3 separate regions of the Homo sapiens genome follow, and all the other regions are linked to region 2. Evidence: fine-mapped expression QTL. A gene starts in region 2. Each other region holds a variant in brackets. All regions are shown on one strand. Distances are between the middles of the regions.

Region 1 (7,416 bases), 30 kb before region 2:
ATGCCAGCAACACGTTTTCTGGTTTCAAGTCACAGTGGACAATGTTCTTGAAGTGAAGGTGTCTCAAAGCCACCAGGATCTGAGGGGAGCAGATGGGCCCAGTAAGAAAGGTAGATAGGTACTCAGCCAAATCCCAACCTCAGCAGCCAGCCCTCCAAACCCATCCATACTTTTTTTTTTTTTTTTTTGAGACAGAGTCTCGCTCTGTAGCCCAGGCTGGAAGTGCAGTGGCATGATCTCAGCTCACTGCAACCCCTACCTCCTGGGTTCAAGTGATTCTCCTGCCTCAGCCTCCCAAGTAGCTGGGACTACAGGCGTGCACCACCATGCCCAGCTAATTTTTTTTTTTCTTTTTGAGGCGGAGTCTCACTCTGTCGCCTGGGCTGGAGTGCAGTGGCACGATCTCGGCTCACTGCAACCTCTACCTCCAGGGCTCAAGTGAGTCTCCTGCCTCAGCCTCCCGAGTAGCTGGGATTACAGGCGCTGGCCACTATGCCCAGCTAATTTTTTCTATTTTTAGTAGAGATGGGGTTTCACCATGTTGGCCAGGCTGGTCTCAAACTCCTGACCTCGTGATTTCCCCACCTCGGCCTCCCAAAGTGCTGGGATTACAGGCGTGAGCCACCGGGCCCAGACTTGCTCTGATAATTTTTTCTTTTATTTTTAGTAGAGACAGGGTTTCACCATGTTGACCAGGCTGGTCTCAAACTCCTGGACTCAAGTGATCCACCCACCTTGGCCTCCCAAAATGCTGGGATTACAGGCGTGAGTGAGCCACTGCGCCTGGCCCCATCCATGCCTTCCTACACACCCCTGCAGACACCCCAGCCAGGGAAACAGGAGGCACTGGAGCACCAAAGAATCTCAGAATCATAGAACCATTTACATCTGAGAGATAAGAGTTAAATGTAAACTAGAAAGTCTGGGCTAGATGAGTGGGGCTGTGAAGATCCCAAGATCTTCTAGCATGTGGTAAACTCCTGAATGCTACTGACAGAGCAGGCATTTCCAAGATCCAACTATGTGATTCTATTTTTTTTTTTTTTTTTTTTTTGAGACAGAGTCTTGCTCTGTCACTCAGGCCAGAGCACAGAGGCGGGATCACAGCTCACTGCACCTCGACCTCCCAGGCTAAATCCATCCTCCCACCTCAACCTCCCTAGTAACTGGGATTATAGGCACACACCATCACACCTGACTAATTTTTGTATTTGTAGAGACAGTGTCTCACCATGTTGCCCAGGCTGGTCTCAAACTCCTGCACTCAAGTGATCCACCCACCTCAGCCTCCCAAAGTGCTTGGATAACAGGCGTGAGCCACCCCACCTCACCCATTTTTTTTTTGAAGAGATGGAGTCTCCCTCTGTCACCCAGGCTGAAGTGCAGTATCATTCTACAGCCTCAAACTCCTGGGGTTAAGTGATCCTCCAGCCTCAGTCTCCCAAATAGCTAGGACTACAGGCATGTGCCACCACCACCATGTCGGGCTTTGATTCCTTTTTTTTTTTTTTTTTTGAGAAGGCCTCCTGATTCTCCTGCCTCAGCCTCCTGAGCAGCTGGGATTACAGGCACACACCACCATGCCCGGCTAATTTTTGTATTTTTAGTAGAGACGGGGTTTCATCATGTTGGTCAGGCTGGTCTTGAACTCCTGACCTCGTGATCCACCAACCTTGGCCTCCCAAAGTGCTGGGATTATAGGCGTGAGCCACTGTGCCCAGCCTGATTTCATTTTTAAAAAAAATATTTTTCATCCTTACAAAAAACTTTGGCTGGGCATGGTGACTCATGCCTGTAATCTCAGCACTTTGGAAGGCTGAGGCAGGTGGATCACCTGAGGTCAGGAGTTAGACACCATCCTGGCCAACATAGCAAAACCCTGCCTCTATTAAAAATACAAAAATTAGGCGTGGTGGTGGGCGCCTGTAGTCCCAGCTACTCGGGAGGCTGAGGCAGGAAAATCGCTTGAACTGGAGAGGTGGAGGTTGCAGTGAGTCGACATCGCGCCATTGCACTCCAGCCTGGGCGACAGAGTGAGATGCCATCTCAGAAAAAAAAAGAGTACCAACCTTACAGGTTGCTATAAGGTTTAAAGCATATCTAAAGATGCATGTAAAACGCTTAGGATAGCTAACCACTGTATGTTAGCTGTTACTGTTGTTGTTATTAGTTATTATTTTTGTGATGGCTTGTTGGTAAATATATTTGTTTGTGTCTCTTAAATAAAGCTTCTCCTGCTGTATCTGTTCCTATGATAAGGTGAGCTGATTAAAAAAAAAATTACCATTTGTAACCATTCATCTGTGAGAATCATATTTCTTGATTCTCTGTAACTCAAAATGCCAAGTACACCAGAAGCAATTGTACAACTGCAATTATTATCTGTCTCGGAGTTTAAATACTTGTGTATCTGTCTCAGAGTTTAAATACTTGTGTTTATTCTGATTGTTTTCTTTTTTAAAAAAATCTTTTTGTAGAGATGGCATCTCGCTATGTTGCCCAGGCTGGTCTTAAACTCCTGGCCTCAAATGATCTTCCCACCTCAGCTACCCAAACCTTGAGATAATAGGCACGACCCACCATGCCTGACCAACCTCCTCATTCTACAGACTGGGAGACCAAGCTGGAAAGATGCATGTGTTGTATATGTCATCTCCAGATTGTTTTTTTGAGATGGAGTCTCACTCTGTTGCCCACGCTGGAGTGCAACGGCATGACCTCGACTCACCACAAATTCCACCTCCCAGGTTCAAGCAATTCTTGTGCCTCAGCCTCCCCAGTAGCTGGGATTACAGGTGAATGCCACCACACCTGGCTAATTTTTGTATTATTAGTAAAGATGGGATTTCACCATGTTGGCCAGGCTGGTCTCAAAACTCCTGACCTCAGGTGATCCATCTGCCTTGGCCTCCCAAAGTTCTAGGATGACAGGCGTGAGCCACCTCGCCCCGCCCATTTCCAGATTTTGTCAGTTGATTTTCTCCCAGTTCATGTGAACAAAGAGGGCAGGTTAGGCCGGGCACGGTGGCTTACGCCTGTAATCCCAGCACTTTGGGAGGCTGAGGCGGGCAGATCACGAGATCAAAAGTTCAAGACCAGCCTGATCGACATGGTGAAACCCCATCTCTACTAAAAATACAAAAATCAGCCAGGAATGGTGGCGTGTGCCTGTGTTCCCAGCTACTCAGGAGGCTGAGGCAGGAGAATCATTTGAACCTGGGAGGCAGAGGTTGCAGTGAGCTGAGATAGCGCCACTGCACTCCAGCCTGGGCAACAGAGCGAGACTCCATCTCAAAAAAAAAAAACATTGGCCGGATATGGTGGCTCACGCCTGTAATCCCAGCATTTTGGGAGGCTGAGGCGGGTGGATCACGAGGTCAGAAGTTCAAGACTAGCCTGGCCAACATAGTGAAACCCCGTCTCTACTAAAAATACAAAAATTAGCCCGGTGTACTGGGACGCACCTGTAGTCCCAGCTACTCAGGAGGCTGAGGTGGGACAATTGTTTGAACCTGGGAGGCAGAGGTTGCAGTGAGCTGAGACTGTACTATTGCACTCCAGCCTGGGTGACAGAGTGAGACTTCGTCT[CA/C]AAAAAAAAAAAAAAAAAAGAAAAGAAAGAGGGCAGGTTGGAAGCTAGATAGATCCAGACTCAAATCTTGGCTGGAAAGCTACTTGGCTGTGACCTCGAGGGAGACTGCTATCTCCCTGAGCCTCAGTTTCCTCATCTATAAAATGGGGTTTATAACAATACCTACCTCCTAGGATGGTGGTGAGGCCTACATAAGCTCAGGAGGTAAAGGGCTTAGCACAGGGCTTAGGTGTGGGGCAGGCAAGAGCCCAGAAAGCAGAAATCTGCAGAGAGAGAGAGAGAGAGAAAGAAGAGCGAGCAGGCAAAAAGAGAGGAAGAGATGAAGGCCAGAAAGAGAAACCCCCTCAGCTGCTGAAAGCAGCCACCTGTGAGAACCATGATTCCTTTCCACACCTGAAGTCTGGATGTGGCCGGGCACGATGGCTCATGCCTGTAATCCCAGCACTTCAGGAGGCTGAGGCAGGCAGATGACTTGAGGTCAGGAGTTTGAGACTGGCCTGGGCAACATGATGAAACCCCATCTCTACTAAAATTACAAAAATTAGCCAGGCATGGTGGCACACACCTATAATCCCAGCTACTCGGGAGGCTGAGGTAGGAGAATCACCTGAACCCAGGGGGCAGAGGGTGCAGTGAGCCGAGATCGTGTCACTGCGCTCCAGCCTGGGCAACAAAGCGAGACTCTGTCTCAAAAATACATAAATAATAAAGTCTGGATGAGGGTGCATCAGTGGGTTTCTGTCCCCACCCCATAAGCCAGCCTGACAAACACAGGCACACTGCCTGAGAGGATAAGGGTGCTGGGCCAGGGTAAAGGGAACACAGCAACGATGGCTCTGAGACCCACAGAGATGTCTCAGAAGAAGGCAAGGCACCCACCAGAAGGAAGCCTTTCTAGGAAGGATGTGAAACACAGAAACCACACAAGGGGATATTTAACATCGTAAAAGTTCCACTCTATGGCCGGCTGGACGCAGTGGCTCATGCCTGTAACCCAGAACTTTGGGAGGCTGCAGCAAGAGGACCACTTAAGCCCAGGAGTTCGAGACCCAACATGGCAAGACCCTGTCTCTACAAAAACATAAAAAAAAATTAGCCAGGTGTAATGGCTCATGCCTGTGGTTCCAGCTAACTCAGGAGACTGAGATGGGAGGATCGCTCGAGCCCAGGAGTTCAAGACCAGCCTGGGCAACATGGCGAGACCTTGTCTCTACAAAAACATTAAAAAAAAAAAAAAAAAAAATTAGCTGGACGTGGTGGCTCATGCCTGTGGTTCCAGTTAACTCAGGAGGCTGAGATAGGAGAATTGCTTCAGCCTAGGAGTTTGAGGCTGCAGTGAACTATGATTACACCACTGCACTCCAGCCTGGGTGACAAAATGAGACCCTGTCTCAAAAAAAAAAATAAAATAGGCCAGGCGCGGTGGCTCACACCTGTAATCCCAGCACTTTGGGAGGCCGAGGCGGGTGGATCACGAGGTCAGGAGATCGAGACCATCCTGGTTAACACAGTGAGACCCTGTCTCTACTGAAAATACAAAAAATTAGCCGGGCGTGGTGGTGGGCACCTGTAGTCCCAGCTACTTGGGAGGCTGAGGTAGGAGAATGGTGTGAACCTGGGAGGCGGAGCTTGCAGTGAGCCGAGATGGTGCCACTGCACTCCAGCCTGGGCAATAGAGCAAGACTCCGTCTCAAAAAAAAATAAAAAATAAAATAAATAAAACCCTATGGTAAATAAAAACTAAATATAAAATAAAGAGGCAAACACTGGGATAAAACCATTGAACAATATAAGTGATAAGAATCTAATGTGCACCTCCACCAAAAAAAAAGAAACGCAGAACAGAGGCCGGGCACAGTGGCTCACACCTGTAATCCCAGAACTTTGCGAGGCTGAGGCCGAGTCAGGAGGATCACTTGAGCCCAGGAGTTGAAGACCAGCCTGGGCAACATAGCAAGTCTTTATAAAAATGTCTTTATAAAAATTAGCTGGGTGTGATGGCTGATGCCTGTTGTCTCAGCTACTCAGGAGGCTGAGGCAGGAGAATTGCTTGAACCCGGGAGGTCAAGGCTGCAGTGAGCCATGATTGTACCACTGCACTCCAGCTCGGGTGACAGAGCGAGACCCTGTCTCAAAAAAACAAACAAAAAGCACAGGCACACAAGGAAAATCTGTTTGAATGTAACACAAATGAGTTTGACATCACTAGTTAAAAGCAAAGATCCTAGGTTCAAATCCCACCAGCTATGTGACCCTGGACAAGATATTTGATGTCTCTGACCCTCAGTTTCTTCAACCATAAAAGGGGATTGATAATAATAGCACCTACTGCACAGGTTACTATGAAGATTAAATGAGTTTGAAGAGTGCTTGGCACATAGTAAGTGCTCAATAAATGTTAGTGACCACATTATTTATCATCACCATTATCAGCCTCCCTTGTCCTAGCCCTGCTCACCTGAGCTATCACTGTCTAAGAATGGGGCTGTATTGGTCATCCCTGTGTCCTCAACACTGACCAGCAAGGGACCAAGCACAGAGCAGGGACTAGGGAGTGTTTGTTGACCAACTGAATGAATGAATGAGAGAAAAAGGGCTGCTTGCCCGTTTTTTCTATTGTTTGGTTTTGAGACACGGTCTCGCTCTGTCACCCAGGCTGGAGTGCAGTGGCACGGTCATAGCTCACTGCAGCCTCAACCACCTAGGTTCAAGAGAGCCTCTCCACTCCCTTCCTCCCAAGCAGCTAGGACTACAGACATGTGCTACCAGGCACCACATCCAGCTAGGTTTTCTATTTTTTTTTTTACTTTTTGTAGAGGTGGGATCTCACTATGTCGCCTAGGCTGGTCTCCAACTCCTGGCTTCAAGCGATCCTCTTGCCTTGGCCTCCCAAAGCGCTGGGATTACGGGCATGAGCCAGCCTGTTTTTGAGATGGGCTCTTGCTATGTTGCCCAGGCTGGCTCAAACTCCTGGGCTTAAGCAATCCTCTGGCCTTAGCTTCCTGAGTAGCTGGGATTACAGGTGTACCCCACCATGCCTGACTCCCCTTTTTTCTAGATGAGTCAAGTCAGGTCCAGGGAGCCTGACTGATCATTTATTTTTTATAATAAAAATAGCTATCATTACCGCTAGTCTATTTTTTTCTATTATTATGATTACTCTTTATTATTATTATTATTATTATTTTTTTTTTTGAGACGAAGTTTCACTCTTGTCCCCCAGGCTGGAGTACAATGGCACGATCTCAGCTCACTGTAACCTCTGCCTCCTGGGCTCAAGGGATTCTCCTGCCTCAGCCTCCCAAGTAGCTATGATTACAGGTGCCTGCCACCATGCTCAGCTAATTTTTGTATTTTTAGTAGAGACAGGGTTTCACCATGTTGGCCAGGCTGGTCTCAAACTCCTGACCTCAGGTGATCCACCCGCCTTGGCCTCCCAAAGTGTTGGGATTACAGGCGTGAGCCACCGCGCCTGGCATACTCTTTATTTTTAATTGTTATTGTCACTATTATTTTTCTTTTTTCTTTCTTTCTTTTTAGAGGCGGGGTCTCGCTATGTTGCCCAGGCTGGAGTGCAATGCCTCTTCACAGATGTGATCCCACTACTGATCAGTAAGAGAGCTTTGACCTGCTCCATTTCCAACCTGGGCTGCTTTGCAACCTGGTGGTCCCCCACTCCTGGGAGGTCACCACATGGATGCCAAACTTAATGAGGACACCTGATCAGCACAGAACTCCTGGGATCAAGTGATCCTCCTGCCTCAGCCTCCTGAGTAGCTGAGACCACAGACACGTGCTACCATGCCCGGCTTATTTTTTCTATTATG
Region 2 (7,150 bases):
GGGAGCGGTGGCTCACACCTGTAATCGCAGCACTTTGGGAGGCTGAGGTGGGCAGATCACTTAAGATCAGCAGTTCGAGACCAGCCTGGCCAACAAGGTGAAATCCCGTCTCTACTAAAAATACAAAAATTAGCCACGTGTGGTAGCAGGCGCCTGTAATCCCAGCTACTCGGGAGGCTGAGGCAGGAGAATCGCTTGAACCCAGGAGGCAGAGGTTGCAGCAAGCTGAGTTTGCGCCACTGCACTCCAGCCTGGGTGACAGAGCGAGACTCCGTCTAAAAAAACAAAAAATAATAAAAATGACAAAAACAAAACAAAACTCAGGTTTAGGGGAGAGACAACAATGAAGATAAAAATTCAAGTGAGGCCAGCTTATGATATGAAAGAGTACTTAAAGCCTGAACAAGGTCACTAAAGGTGTAAATCCAGACTTCTGTCATTCATTCATTGAGCCGGTTTCACTGGGCACTGCAGTATGCCGGAGCAGCAGGGAAGGCAGCCATGAAAAAGGCAGCTGCCCCCACCCTCAAGAGGGACCAAGGGCCATAGACTGCTCTAAGGTGCTGAGAGCATGCCCATCTATACTACTGGAATAGTGAGTGGATGAACTGGCTTCTGGCTGTGTCTTAGAAAATCACCTGGGGGCTTTTAAAAATACTGATGTGCAGATTCCATCTCACTTTGCAGAGATTCTGATTTAATTTAGCATTTTCGTGGCAGGAGCCATGGACATCATAACTTTTTTTTTTCTTTTTCTACTTTTTTTCTTTTTTAGAGATAGGGTCTCTCTCTGTTGCCCAGGCTGGAGTGCAGTGACATGATCGTGGCTCACTGCAGCCTCAAACTCCTAAGCTCAAGAAATCCTCCCACCTCAGCCTCCCAAGTAGCTGAGACTACAGACGTGTGCCACCTCGCCCGGTTAACTTTTTTTTTTTTTTTTTTTTTTAAGAGATGGGGTCTCCTTATGTTGCCCAGGCTGGTCTCAAACTCCTGGGCTCCAGCGATCCTCCCACCTCAGCCTCCCAAACTGCTGGGATTACAGGTGTGAGCCACTGCAGCTGGCCCATTTTTTACCTTTATATTTAAGCATAACACAGTCAGTTACAGATCCAACTCCTTCTTCTCCTCTTTTCCCCCTTCTAACTACTGCACTTGACTAGTTTTATAAATAAATAAGTATAACATATGTTCAGGAAAGGCCGCACATCACAAGTGCACAGCTCAATGAATTTTCAAACTGTACAAAGCGTGTCACTAGCATCCTAATCCATAAATGAAAGTTTAGACCAGTCCCTAAAGAGCGCCTTCATGACCCCACTCTGTAACCATCTTCCAGAAGCCCCCAACTCTCCTTATTTTTTTTTTTCAGAGGGAGAGAAAGGGGTAGAGATGGAATCTCACTATGTTGCCCAGGCTGATCTCGAACTCCTGGGCTCAAGCGATCCCCCCAGCTCCAGCTCAGCCTCCCAAAGTGCTGGGATCACAGGCGTGAGCCACTACACCCGGCCTCTCCTGACTTCTAACTCCCCCTACCCTCTCCTCCCCCAGATGCCCCGCCCCCACCCGAGGCCCCGCCCCCAGGCCGGCCACCACCTCTCACCCGACAGCACCACCTCCACCAGGTCGCCCTCCTGGATGTCTCCGGACGAGCGCACCAGCTGCAGGAGGTTGGCCGACGTGGGGTCATGTTTGAAAAGCAGGATCTTGTCGTAAAGGCCGTAGAAGCCACACTCAGGGAACTGAGGGGCGGGAGAGGGATGTGGCGACGGAAAAGCTCAGAGCCGCCTTCAGCAGCGGGCGGACTGTGACCCTCCCAGGGCAGGGCCGGCTGTTTCCCCCGGAAACGCAGAGACCCCGCAGGCCCTCGCTTCCTGCCTGCCCCCTCCCAACCCCAGCGCGAGCCGGGCAGGATGCCAGCGCCCCAATTGTACGGGGAGGGGGCGCCGGCGTGGGTTTGGTGGCTGGAAGGGGGAGCTGGGGTGGGAGGGAGAGTGGCTCCGGGAGCGTGGACACCTCGAATTTTCCGGAACCTGGCGGAGGTGGGAGGGGATGCTGAATGAACACTCCCTCCCCTGTGCCTCCTCCCCAGGCTCACACACCCGCCCCCCAGCTTCCTTCCTGGATCTGTCTATTGTTGTCCCAGTTACCTGGCTCCAGGCCCAGCACTGGGGTGGGGCGAGCTGGAAGGAGGACTTTTCGGGGCTCCTGGGAAAGTGGGGGGGGGGGCCGGGGGACTTGGACTCGAGGGCGCTGGAGATAAGGAGGGCGCCTGCCACCCAATGCTCAAAGGACCCAGGTGTCTGGGTCCTCAGCTTTGGGGGCCTGGGGGCAGGAAATGAAACCTAGTAGAACAGAAAGTGAAACTGCCCCGGTGGGGCCTCGGGAAGGAAGGTAAGCGGCCCTAACACACCTGGACCTGGCAGAAAAATAAAACTGGGGTGAAGCCTGAGCGGGGCAGGCTGGGGACTTGAGCACTGGACAAAGAAGTTCACCCAAGGGACAATCTGCCCCCGTACCCCCACTGCCACCAGCTTCCCATGAAGTGGGCTGAGTTGGGGTGGTGAGCTGGGCCTGCGGGATTGAGGCATTTGGTGGGCAAAACCCTATCAGTTCTCACTGCTAAGAGAGAGTCCACAGAAGACCAGGACTGCCTTGGCCCTGACCCCTTGGGAAGTTTTTCTCTAAGCTTCAGTTTCCTTGTCTGTAGAATGGGGGAGCTGGCCCAGTTCCCCACGTTTCTCTGATGCCCAAAGGATTCATTTCCAGGAGTCTGAAAAGATTCTGGAATTTGGATATTTTGGGACTCCAACATGCTCACATTATAGAATTATACATTCTAGATTCCTACCTGGTATCACTATACATTTTAGGATTTCAATAACCTAAATAAGCGGTAATCTAATATTTTAATATTCTAGGAGTCTGACAAGCTAGGACTGTGCTCTTTGAATTCTTTAGCATTCAAGGACCTCATCCATCCAGCATTCTAAAATTCTAACATTTTAACTTTCTAGGATTCAACAATCTAGGAATCTAATATTCCAGCATTTTAATGTTTTACTATTTCACAAACCTAGAATTCTAATATTTGAACACGAACATGGGGGCAATTTAATTGCCTAGGATGCATATTCCAACAAGTTATGATTCTAATATTCTAACATTTCTACAGTCCAGTACTCCAACACAGAAGCCCACTATTCTTTTAACATTTCACGGTTTAGACGTGGAGTTCCACCTGGTTTCCTCTTGCCATAACACCCAGCTGCCCACCCTGGGGACCCTGGTGTCCAAAATTAAGAGTAGGCTAACAGCACTGTGACTAGGAAAGGGAATAGAGTCCCCAGGGTCTGTAGGAGTGCCTGCCCCTCCACACATATCTCAGGCTTAGGGGAGGGCAGAATTGGGCTCCGAGACCTCACTTGCCCCTGGCAGCTAACTCAAGCACCTGCACCCACACATGTCACCGGATCACCATGGCCAGCCCGGGTTCAATTTCTCCTGTTTCCACCAAATGGGAGGCCCGGGATGGGCCTGGACGTGGAGGTCCGCCGACATCTGCTGCCCCTTCCTCCCCTCTCTACACCTGGCTGGCCCCTCCCTTCCTCCCTGTTTGCTGCAGAAAACAACGACATGCAGGGACATGAAATTTGGGGAGGCCTCTGGGGCACCCCACCCCTGCCCAGTCCTCTCTCAAAGGGATGGTGGGGAGAGGGGCAATGGAGGGGGGCAATGCCCCCTATCCCTCCATCACCCAAAGCTCAGGTCTCCTTCCTCCCTCTTCCGCACACCAGGCCCCAGACCCCTCTGCCAGCGCCCCCTCCTTCAACCTCTCCCCGAGCTGGATCCAGGGAGCCTGCGCCCTCACCTTCTGGTCCACGATGGAACAGGCCAGCTGCTTCACATGAGCCAGCTCGGAGGCGGCGGGCAACAGCACGAACTCGCGGGTCAGCCCGATCTGGATGTGAAAGGAGACCCCGGAACCCGGGGCCGGGATCTGGGGCAGTAGCGGTGGCGGCGACTGCAGCTCTAGGCCGCCGGGGGGCGGAGGAGACCCCGGCCCGGGAGAGCCAGGGAGCCCGGCGGGATAAGAGGGGGCGGTGGCCATGGGGGGAGGCCGGGGACCGGCCGCCTGGAGCCCACCCGGGACCCGGCCGGGGGGCCCCGGGGGACCCTGGGTTCTAGATCCGCGGGATCTCGTGAGCAGGTGGTGGGAGAGCGGGGATCCGAGAAAAGATCTGGCAGGCGGAGGGGACCTGAGGATGGCGGGGTCCTGGGAAGGAGAGAAAGGCACTATAGTGGGTCAGAGGCCCGGAATCCAGGGCTCCCAGAAGATCAGAAAGGAGAAAAGTAGTGGGTTGGAGGTCCCAGCGATTGAGATTCCAAGAAGCCTGAGAGGAAATCTAGTAGGTCGGGGTCACAGGGATCAGGAGAGCCCGCGATTCAAAGGCCCCTTCCCTAGAGGAGGGATTGAGAAGGGGGCAGAGGGAATCCCAGGATCCAGTGCTCCAAGAAGAGGATCCCACTCAGAAGGCGGCCCGGGGGAATTCACCTTGGGGGTGGAGGGCAGGAGTCTCTGAGTCGGGGACCGAGTGGATTCCAGAGATAAAGGGGTTCGCAGGGACCCGACCGGCCAGGGGATGGGCAGAGGGGTCCCGAGGGCCGGAGTGGGTAGAAGGGAATCTCACGAGTCGCAGAAGTTGGAGAAAAGTTCGGTCGGGAGCCGTGAGGAAGGGGGCGTTGCCGGAGCGGGGTTGGGTGGGGGGCAGGGAGGGTCGCCAGGCGCCAGTAGCTCTTTTTCCCCCTCCAAAGTTTAAGTCGGCGGCGGCGGCGGCGGCCCAGGAGGAAGTGTCCGGAGCGACAGTGCAGTCGACCAATCGGCGCGGGCCTCGGCGACGTCAGAGAGGGGCGGAGCCTGCCGAGGGGCCGGGGGCGGAAGGGGAGGGTGGGCCCGGGGCCTCCGAGTTGGGGGCTGGACCTCCGCCTCCAGGGTCCGGGACAAGGGATGGTGTGAGGGATGGAGGGCAGGCAGGCGAGACCAGTTCCTTCCCTGAACACAGCCAAGCCTGGAAAGTTAACTTTTCCCTCGGCTGGACAGGGAGGGGAAACACTATCACCCACCGCCGGTCGCAGGCGTCGGGCTTGGAGGCCACTGGCCCTTTAAGGAGGGGAGCCCTCTCCGGCAGGCGTCCGGCGCCCATGGCAGGGGACGGGTGGGAAATCGGTATCAGGTCCCGGCCCGCTCTCTGGGTTCGGCCTCTCTGTTCTCCGAGCGTCACCCCTGCCCTCCCCGCCGCGTCCCAGCCCAGGGAAGGGGGTGCTGCAGAGCGTCCCCCGGCCCCAGCCCATTTAACACATGGAAAGACCGAGGCCTCCAGATGGGTAGGAAGGGGCTCGCCTTAGGTCTGTCTCCAGCGATGGTGGGCAAGGTGCATGGCGCTAACTGGATGGGTGGGGAGGGTCCATCCCCCCGCCCACCCCAACCCCGCCTTAGGATAGTGTGGGGCTGCCCCGAGGGAGGACAGCACACCCATACCACTTCATAGATGCAGAGTGTGTCTCCTGGGGATGTGGAGTACGTGTGCGTGTCTTTCTCTCCATGTGACTTTGGGTGAGTGGCTTCTCTGTGAGCCTCAGTCCCTCCATCTGTTGGGACTGTAATAGGACTGACCCCACATGGGATGGTGGGAGCCGATGCCATGGTATACTGGTGCCTGGAAACGCAGCAGTTCAGTAAGAGGTGGTTGTCTCTGATAATACGCGGAAAGGGGTGGCCACCTCCAGCACTCAGGCTTTGATGGGTGGGCACACCCATTCAGTCACCCAGCAAGTATCTGTGAGGACCTACTGGGTGCTGGGTGGGCCCTGCTGTAAAACTCCAGCCGCTACAGGGGTCAGGCTTGATCTCTCCTCCCCAGCTAATAATCAAATAGTGGCTACCATTTAGTTTACACAGAATAAGCTGAAGCCTCAGAGAAGCAAAACGTCTTGCCCAAGATCCCAGAGTGAAGTTGCTTGAGGGAAGCTGCCCCACCCACCCCTTTGATTGACAAGTCAAGGCCTAGGTTTGAGCTCTAAGAGAAGGGCCACCTGTCTGGCTGGGATGCTGGCAGGACTGGAAATGGCAGGGCTGGCTGAGGATGGGGGCTGCCAGAAGAGCCCCTCTTCCTGGTGTACGGCCGTTGGGGGTAGCTGAGGTCGGTACAGTATCGATTCTGTCACCACATCCGGGGGCTGGGGCTGAGGAAGGAAGTCTGAGGCTGGAGTGAAAACCCAAACCACCACCTGGGGAACTGCATTGAGCCCAGAGGGATGGGCAGGGAGCACACCACGTGGAGCCCACGAAGGCTCCCCTTGGCGTCATCTAAGGGCCTCCTGCCCACCTGCACCCTTTTTCCTGAAGGGCAGATGACTGTCCCAGCAAAACGCTGCCATGTCCTGAGTGTCCAGACAGCGGCCTCCATCCTTTCTCGTATGTTCACTGGGGCCTGCTGGGGGACTGGGGCACAGCCCTTTACAACCCAGGAACTGGGCATTAGTGCCCTGTGGCAGAGGTGCTAGGATTACCGAGGACGCCTGGCTGGTAGGTGGTGGAAGCCTCCTCGAGACAGGAGCAGCGGTCCCCTCCGTCTCATCTGGAGCATGTGGACACCTGCTCCCTCTTTTTAAGGCTGTGGACCCAGTGAAATGCCATGTAAAGCACTCAGTACAGTAGACGTGGACCACTGAGAAGGGAAAGGAGGGACGCATCAGGACATGAGCCACGAGGGCTCGGGCACCTGCGGCACCTCCTCCCAGCATGGAGGAGCCTGCGCCCCAAAGCCATCATCCTCCACTGGCAGGTGCAGCCTTTTCCCTCCCTGCTCCTTGTGGGCCTGGGATGGGAACAGGAAGGGGGTTTACGTCCTCTGGGCACCAGCCCTTTGGCCTCGCCACCACCCTCACACATCCCAGGCGGGGCTGAGGCTTCAGCTGGACTGTCATCATAGTATCTGCTCCCCAGGGCTCTACCCCTGGGGAGGGAGCACTTAGGGACAGAAAGGGCACAAGGAGATTCGGTCCAGTGCCTCCACTTCTCTCCACCCACACCCCACCCAAGCTCTGGGCCCGTCTCCGGCCCCTGCTGCCCTACCACAAAACCCCAACCCAT
Region 3 (7,225 bases), 41 kb before region 2:
GGGATTGATGGTCATTTCCCCCTGAAGGTTAAGGAATCCTTATAGACACAGAGGAGAAAGTTGGCTGGAAGTGAGTCACTGGGAGACTGAATCTTAGACTCAAATTCCTTTTGCATTTCAAAGCTAAATAGTGTCAAGTCCAATGTCCCTTTTCTTTACAGTATATACAAGTGTCTCTATCAACATTAGGTTTTGAGGTTGAGTGCAGTGGCCCACACCTGTAATCCCAGCACTTTTGAGAGGTGGAGGATCGTTCAACCCCAGGAGTTCAAGACCAGCCTCGGCAACATAGTGAGACCCCATCTCTATAACAAATAAAAAACATGCCCGGGCACGGTGGTTCATGCCTGTAATCCCAGCACTTTGGGAGGCCGAGGTGGGCAGATCACTTGAGGTCAGGAGTTCGAGACCAGCCTGGCCAACATGGCAAAACCCCTTCTCTACTAAAAATACAAAAATTAGCTGGGCGTGGTGGCATGTGCCTGTAGTCTTAGCTACTTGGGAGGCTGAGGTGGGAAGATCACTTGAGCCCAGGAGGTTGAGGCTGCAGTGAGCTGTGATCATGCCACTGCACTTTGGCCTGGGCAACAGAGCAAGATTCCATCTCAAAAAATAATAAAATAATAAAAAAATTAAAAACTACATAAAAAACAAAAAATTAGCGAGGTGTGGTGGCTCATGCCTGTAGTCCCAGCTACTCAAGAGGCTGAGGGGGAGGATGGCTTGAACCCTGTAGTTTGAGGCTGCAGTGAGCTACGATCATACCACTGCACAGAAGCCTGGGTGATAGAGCAAGACCCTGTCTCTAACAAACAAAATTAGGTTTTGTGATTCCAGTGGTCCTGATAGGATAAACTTTTTGTCTCTAATGATTTAAGTTATAGGGCCCTAAGTTTTCATTGTATGGATTTGATTTTTTTTTTTTTTTTTGAGACAGAGTTTCGCTCTTGTTGCCCAGGCTGGAGTGCAGTGGCACGATCTCAGCTCACCGCAACCTCCGCCTCCCAGATTCAAGCGATTCTCCTGCCTCAACCTCCCGAGTAGCTGGGATTACAGGCATGTGCCACCATGCCCGGCTAATTTTGTATTTTTAGTAGAGACGGGGTTTCTCCATGTTGATCAGGCTGGTCTCAAACTCCTGACCTCAGATGATCCACCCACCTCAGCACTCAAAGTGCTGAGATTACAGGCGTGAGCCACTGCGCCCGGCCTTGATTTTATCTTTCATGGCATCCTCATGATATACACTATCTCCTGGAATTCTATAATTGAGGAATGTTTTTGAATCACGTCTCTCATTTCTGGTCTCTGGATATTAACTAGTGGCCAAGACAGAAGCAGATCAGGGGTGATAGTCTTTTCCATACATTTTCTAGCCTGGGTCTGTCACGGGAGATGGATTCATCTCTATGTTGCCTACACTTCTGGACCTTAGACTAAACAGAGGGATAGGCACTGGGGATGGAGTCTAAGAGCCTTTCCCCAATAGTCTTAGCAACTATGCCTCAGAGGTATACTGCTCCTTTGGATACCTTCATTTACTGAGGCTCGTTTAGCATTTTCAAATCAAAGAGCTGCATTTTGGCCAGGCGCAGTGGCTCATGCATGTAATCCCAGCACTTTGGGAGGCCTAGGCAGGCAGATCGCTTGAGCCCAGGAGTTTGAGACCAGCCTGGGCAACATGGTAAAACCTCTGCAAAAAATCCAAAAAATTAGCTGGGCATGGTGGCATGTGCCTGTAGTTCTAGCTACTCAGGAGGCTGAGGTGGGAGGATCACTTGAGCCCAGAAGGTCAAGGCTGCAGTGAGCTGTGTTCATGCCACTGCACTCCAGCCTGGGAAACAGAGACCCTGCCTCAGGAAAAAAAAAAAAAGCTGCAGCTCTGGAACCATCAGATGGACAAGGTGATACAAATCAAATTGGAAAATCCCAGAGTAAGCTCCCAGTATTAGCCTAAATTGGCTACTAAATTCTTTCCTGTTTTCCTGGGTTTTTTAAGGCTGTGTTGCCCAAACTGGACTCGAACTCCTGGACTCCAGCGATCCTCCCACCTCAGCCGCTTAAGTAGCTGGGAATACAGTCACCCGCCACCATGCCCAGCTTTCAGATAGGTCTTTGCAGCACGTAAGTCAGAGCGTTCTGAAAGTCTGAAGAAAACTTGTTCAGGTCCATGCTCGGATCGTTCACCTTCAGCTGTGGAAGGTGGAGGACCATGTGTTAGGGTGTTACTGGAGAACTGGGGAGGTGGAGGGCTGGAGTCAAAGGTAGAGAGAGGTGGATACGTGTTCCCTCCAGTTCATTCCCTCTGCCTTCAGTCTTTCAAGGCCAAGATGAAGCCTAAGAGGTCACCTCTGATTCCCCACTCTCTCTGACCCCTGAGCTCATTCTAGGCTGCCCAAGCCTCCCAAACTCCCCCAGTCCAGCCCTTCCCGTTCTGGGTCATCACTGTCCAGGGGCAGGTATGTCTCTCTACTGGCAGGGCAGTCCTTGGCTGTCTCAGTCACCACTGTGTCCCCAGCATCACCCAGCTCAGTGACACAAAGGAATGAGTGAATATATACTTCTCTATTTCATAGATAGAGAAGTCATCACATCAACATAAAATAAAATACT[G/A]AATGTTACGTATCAGTTTTCTAGTATGGATCAGACTTGGGCTAACTGCATTTTATTATTTGACTTTTGAGACAGGGTCTCACTCTCTTGCCCAGGCTAGAGTGCAGTGGTGTGTGATCTTGGCTCACTGCAATCTCTGCTTCCTGGGCTCAAGCGATCCTCTAGCCTCAACCTCCAAGTAGCTGGGACCACAGGTGCAAGCCACCACACTTGGCTAATTTTTGAACTTTTTGTAGAAAGGGAGTTTCACCACGTTGGCCAGGCTGCTCTCAAACTCCTGAGATCTAAGGGATCTGCCTGCCTCGGCCTCCCAAATTGCTGGGATTATAGGCATGAGCCACCACACCCAGCCTGAATTAATAGTTGTGATTAGTAGTAACACCACCACCAAATAAAAAATCAGTCATCACAAACCATGAGATTACTTTTTCTCCAAGTTCTCTACCCTCCAGTCACATTCCTTCCATCTCTCCCCAGTTTCCAACTCCTCCTCCATTACTCCTCCCTCTCCCTTCTCATCTTCTCTCCTGGCACTCTTCCTGTATATTTTCTACCCCAGCTCGTCCTCCTTCCAAGACTCCTCTCCCATCAGTCCTCTCTCCCCACCCCTTCCATCCTTCCTCTTTTCAGGCAGTCCTCCTTCCAGATGAACTCCATGTTGGTACAACAGAGTAATGATTCGAGAGTGCCGTGTGCTGAGATCAAGGCCATGGGGCCAGAGATGAGTCCGTTTTAATTGCTGGGGAAACAGGGAGGGGCCTTGGAAATAGCTCCCCCCACCCCACTCCCCACGTGTCCCATCCAGTTTGGGCAGGAAGCCACTTTCCCTAGAACAGTTCATTGCTGGGATCCTGTGAAGAACCGCTGTGGAGGGCAGCAGCTGGACGAGGGCACAGGACCTCAGAGAACACTGATGCGCTCCGCCAGCCCCTGCATGTCGTGGTCCTGTGGTGGACAGGCCCCACCGAGATCCCTGTCCGTGGGCAGCCCAGACCCAGGCAGCGGATGCTCTGCTGCAAACTGCTCCCAGCGCGCGTCGTCACTCTCATGCGTGATGTATCGCTCTCCCATCTTCCCCTCCAGCTCTCGGAGGTCCAGCCACGTCTGGTACTCCTGGGCCCGAGAGAACTGGGGTTAGCTTGGGGTCTGCATTGGAGCAGTGCCTGGATATCCTCTGGTTTGCCACTGAGAGCTGGGTACCAATGAAGGTGAAGCCATACCCTCTGCAACCCACCCAGCCAGTAGACATTTAGCTCCACCCCCTCTTCCTGCACCCAGCCAATGGGAGGCCTAGCCACATTCCAGACCCAAGGAAACCTACATCCTTCACAACCTGCCTAGCCAATAAGCGATCTACTCCCACCCCTTCCTCCAATCCAGCCAATGGGCCAGCCCTGCCCCCTGCATCACCTGTAACCAGGGGTGGCTGAGAGATTTGTCCACGCTGTAGCGTTTGCGCATCTTCACCTGCAGCAGGTTGTTGATGAGGTCAATGGCTGCACAGGAAAGAGAAACAGGTCAAGCCCTACAGGTCAAGGGTCACTCCTCCTCCAATAGGCACCCCCTAGCCTACCTGCCTGCCATCAACACCTTCCTTCTGCACCAGCTCAGGTGGCTCAGAAGCCTCACCTGTGCCAATCACTCACCCACCCATTTCCTCATTACATTACAAATTTGTCTCCTCCTGCCCATGCATGTTCACACCAGCTCCCTCTCTTCACCTGTTCTCTACTTCAATTTCCCCATTCCCCTATGTCACCTTTTTTTTTCTTTTTGTCATATACAGGTACATACAATTACACCTGTACTATTCTTTTTATTTTTACTTATTTATTTATTGAGACAGAGTCTCGCTCTGTCGCCCAGGCTGGAGTGCAATGGCACGATCTTGGCTCACTGCAACCTCCGCCTCCCGGGTTCATGTGATTCTCCTGCCTCAGCCTCCCAAGTAGCTAGGAATACAGGTGTGTGTCACCATGTCCTGCTAACTTTTTGTATTTTTAGTAGAGATGGGGTTTCACCATATTGGCCAGGCTGGTCTCTAACTCCTGACCTCAAGCAATCCGCCTGCCTTGGCCTCCCAAATTGTTGGGATTACAGGCATGAGCCACTGCGCCCGGCCTAAATGGATTTTCAACCTACAATACTTCCTTTTTTTTTTTTGAGACAGGGTCTCATTGTTACCCAAGCTGAAGTGCAGTGGCGTGATCAATGCTCACTGAAGCCTCCACCTCCCCAGCTTAATTGATTCTCCTGCCTTAGCCTCCTGAGCAGCCAGCTGGGACTACAAGCACCTGTCACTATGGCCGGCTAATTTTTGTATTTTTTGTAGAGATACATTGCCCAGGCTGGTCTTGAACTCCTGGGCTCAAGCAATCTGCCTACCTTGGCCTCCCAAGGTGCTGGGATTATGGGCTTCAGCCACTGCGCCTGACCAACTTATGATATTTTCAATTTACAATGGGCAATGGGTTTATCAGGTTTATCTAACCCCAGTGCAAATCAGGGAGCATCTATGTCATCAGGCTGGGCGCGGTGGCTCATGCCTGTAATCCCAACACTTTGGGAGGCCGAGGCGGGTGGATCACCCGAGGTCAGGAGTTCGAGACAAGCCTGGCCAACACGGAAACCCCGTCTCTACTAAAAATACAAAAAATTAGCTGGGCATGGTAGCGCATGCCTGTAGTCCCAGCTACTCAGGAGGCTGAGGCAGAATCGCTTGAACTCAGGAGGCAGAGGTTGCAGTGAGCCAAGATCGTGCCACTGCACTCCAGCCCGGGTGACAAAAGCGAAACTCCGTCTCAAAACAAAACAAAACAAAACAAAATGTCATCAGATGGTAGTTAGTCACCATTGCCTGCAGAAGGCTCAGAGATAGGCCTGTTCATTGTGAAAAAGAGGACTAGCGAATGTCAAGCTTCAAGACAAGCCAGCACTCATCCGAGGCTCTCTCCTTGATGGGAAGCCATGAAGGACAAGGCTTCACTGTATGAACCCATCCGAGGAGAGGCCTGGTGCACACAGGCACCCTGCTCCCGTCAACACCCACAGGATTCTGTGATCCTCACACAGGTGCAACCACACTTAAATTCACTTGTGCACACTCGATGCACTTTTACTGAGGGACTTCTGAGTGGGTCTCAAAAGACAATGCTGGCGGGGTGTGATGGCTTATGCCTGCAATCCCAGCACTTTGGGAGGCTGAAGCGGGCAAATAACTTGAGGTCAGGAGTTCAAGACCAGCCTGGCTAACATGGCGAAACCCTGTCTCTACTAAAAATATAAAACATGAGCCAGGCATGGTGCTGTGTGCCTGTAATCCCAGTTACTCGGGAGGCTGAGGCAGGAGAATCCCTTGAACCCAAGAGGTGGAGGTTGCAGTGAGCCGAGATCACGCCACTGCACTCCAGCGTGGGTGAAAGAGCGAGACCCCACCTCAAAAAAAAAAAAAAAGCCAGTGTTGAGCACCCCCAATATTACTCCAGGACTCAAGTCAATCCACATTCTCACTGCTTAGGGCCCATGCTCTTAGACCACCACCAAGACCTTGTCTTGTCCTGCACCGAGCAACCTCCGTGTCACCCTGCTCCACCTGCTCCATGAAGCCGCACCCTCCAGAGAGGACCCTTCCCCTTTCCACCCTTCGCGGACCACTCAATGAGCTACCCTGCACCTGACCCCTTCTGTCCAAGTCATCACAGTATTCCCAGAGCTGGAACAGTCAATGCCTGGCACATCGTGGGCACTCAACATGTTGAATCAATGGTTACAAATACATGAATGTACTTGTTGAATAAATGGTTATAAATAAATGAATGAATGATCCCCCCCCTTCCCATACTCCATCTGTCTTCCTGAGCTCCCTGGCTCCAACACAGGTCCCTTGTTCTCCTGGCTTCTGACACACCCCAGTATCTTAGCCCTGCCTCTGGCCCTCTAAACATGCCATCCCACACCCAGCCTCAAAGCTCCAGGCCTTAGGACTTAACTTTTCCAAGCAGGGAAAGTTACAGACCCATTCCCAAGTAGGTTCAAGTCACCAGGCCCGGTGCCACTTCATCAGGCCCAGCCACAACACCAAAGCCCCAGAATGCAGAGTGCAATGTCTGCCTCAGTCCTGGCTCCCTTCTCCTCCCCACTCCCATCCACTCCCAGCTTCCAGGACTCAGGGTCAGCCCTGTTCCTGGACCTCTTCGGAAACCCTCCACGGCCACGTCCCTAGACTGGCTCCCTTGGTCACTGAACCGACCCCAGGCTTCAGGCCCATCTTCACCCAAGTCACGGCCCCAGTACACAGCAAAGTAGCCATGCCCTTGTTTCTCAACCCTACCCACCGGTGCCTCCTTTTTGCAAGGCTGACCCTTTTGGGGTCGTAAACCCAAAGGCTCCAGGTCCCAGCCAATGCCTTGGGAGGCTCAGCCCCTTCTCCTGGTCACCGCAGCCCTTTGGTACCCTCAAGTCCAGTCCCTTTCCTGGTCCCACCCTAGACAAGCCAAGTCTCACTCAGCCCCCCTAAGGTTCCAAGTGTCCTCAGCGCTTCTGGGGCACTTGGTTTCCAGCCCAAGTAACCTAGTCTAGGCCTGAGTCCCAGCCCATCTTTTACAGGACGGCT

Which allele goes with the higher level. Alleles are on the strand shown, and positions count from the first base shown. SD is a standard deviation of normalised expression in the study named. Not every link is listed here.
As copies of C replace CA in region 1, the expression in prefrontal cortex of the gene that starts at base 4,852 in region 2 goes down (moderate effect, 0.73 SD a copy in BrainSeq).

What was found. PIP is the estimated chance that this variant, and not a neighbour inherited with it, causes the effect.
Region 1: its variant is the best candidate, but not a certain one, in a credible set for the expression of PRKD2 in prefrontal cortex (BrainSeq, PIP 0.55).
Region 3: its variant is the best candidate, but not a certain one, in a credible set for the expression of PRKD2 in amygdala (GTEx, PIP 0.54).

What each region holds. Positions count from the first base shown.
Region 1 is chr19:46,681,670-46,689,085 of GRCh38, forward strand. It overlaps PRKD2 (protein kinase D2), which reads right to left. Exons shown (of 18, transcript NM_016457.5): 15 at 1-79. It also overlaps the pseudogene RN7SL364P. Among named protein-coding and RNA genes, the nearest start is that of MIR320E, 24 kb to the right of the region's middle. The variant CA/C (reference allele first, on the strand shown) is at 3,589.
Region 2 is chr19:46,712,263-46,719,412 of GRCh38, forward strand. It overlaps PRKD2 (protein kinase D2), which reads right to left and starts at 4,852. Exons shown (of 18, transcript NM_016457.5): 1 at 3,869-4,852; 2 at 1,601-1,739. The coding sequence starts at 4,108. It overlaps LOC107987269, which reads right to left. Exons shown (of 4, transcript XM_017027568.2): 1 at 6,384-7,150; 2 at 6,091-6,240; 3 at 5,537-5,714; 4 at 4,272-4,915. The coding sequence starts at 6,801. The coding sequence ends at 4,549. RefSeq lists silencers at 1,867-2,096, 4,748-4,797, 4,818-4,977 and enhancers at 2,287-2,586, 6,098-6,147.
Region 3 is chr19:46,671,010-46,678,234 of GRCh38, forward strand. It overlaps PRKD2 (protein kinase D2), which reads right to left. Exons shown (of 18, transcript NM_016457.5): 17 at 4,024-4,109; 18 at 3,307-3,726. The coding sequence ends at 3,514. DACT3-AS1 (DACT3 antisense RNA 1) reads left to right here. Exons shown (of 3, transcript NR_040042.1): 3 at 6,131-6,447. Among named protein-coding and RNA genes, the nearest start is that of DACT3, 13 kb to the left of the region's middle. The variant G/A (reference allele first, on the strand shown) is at 2,614.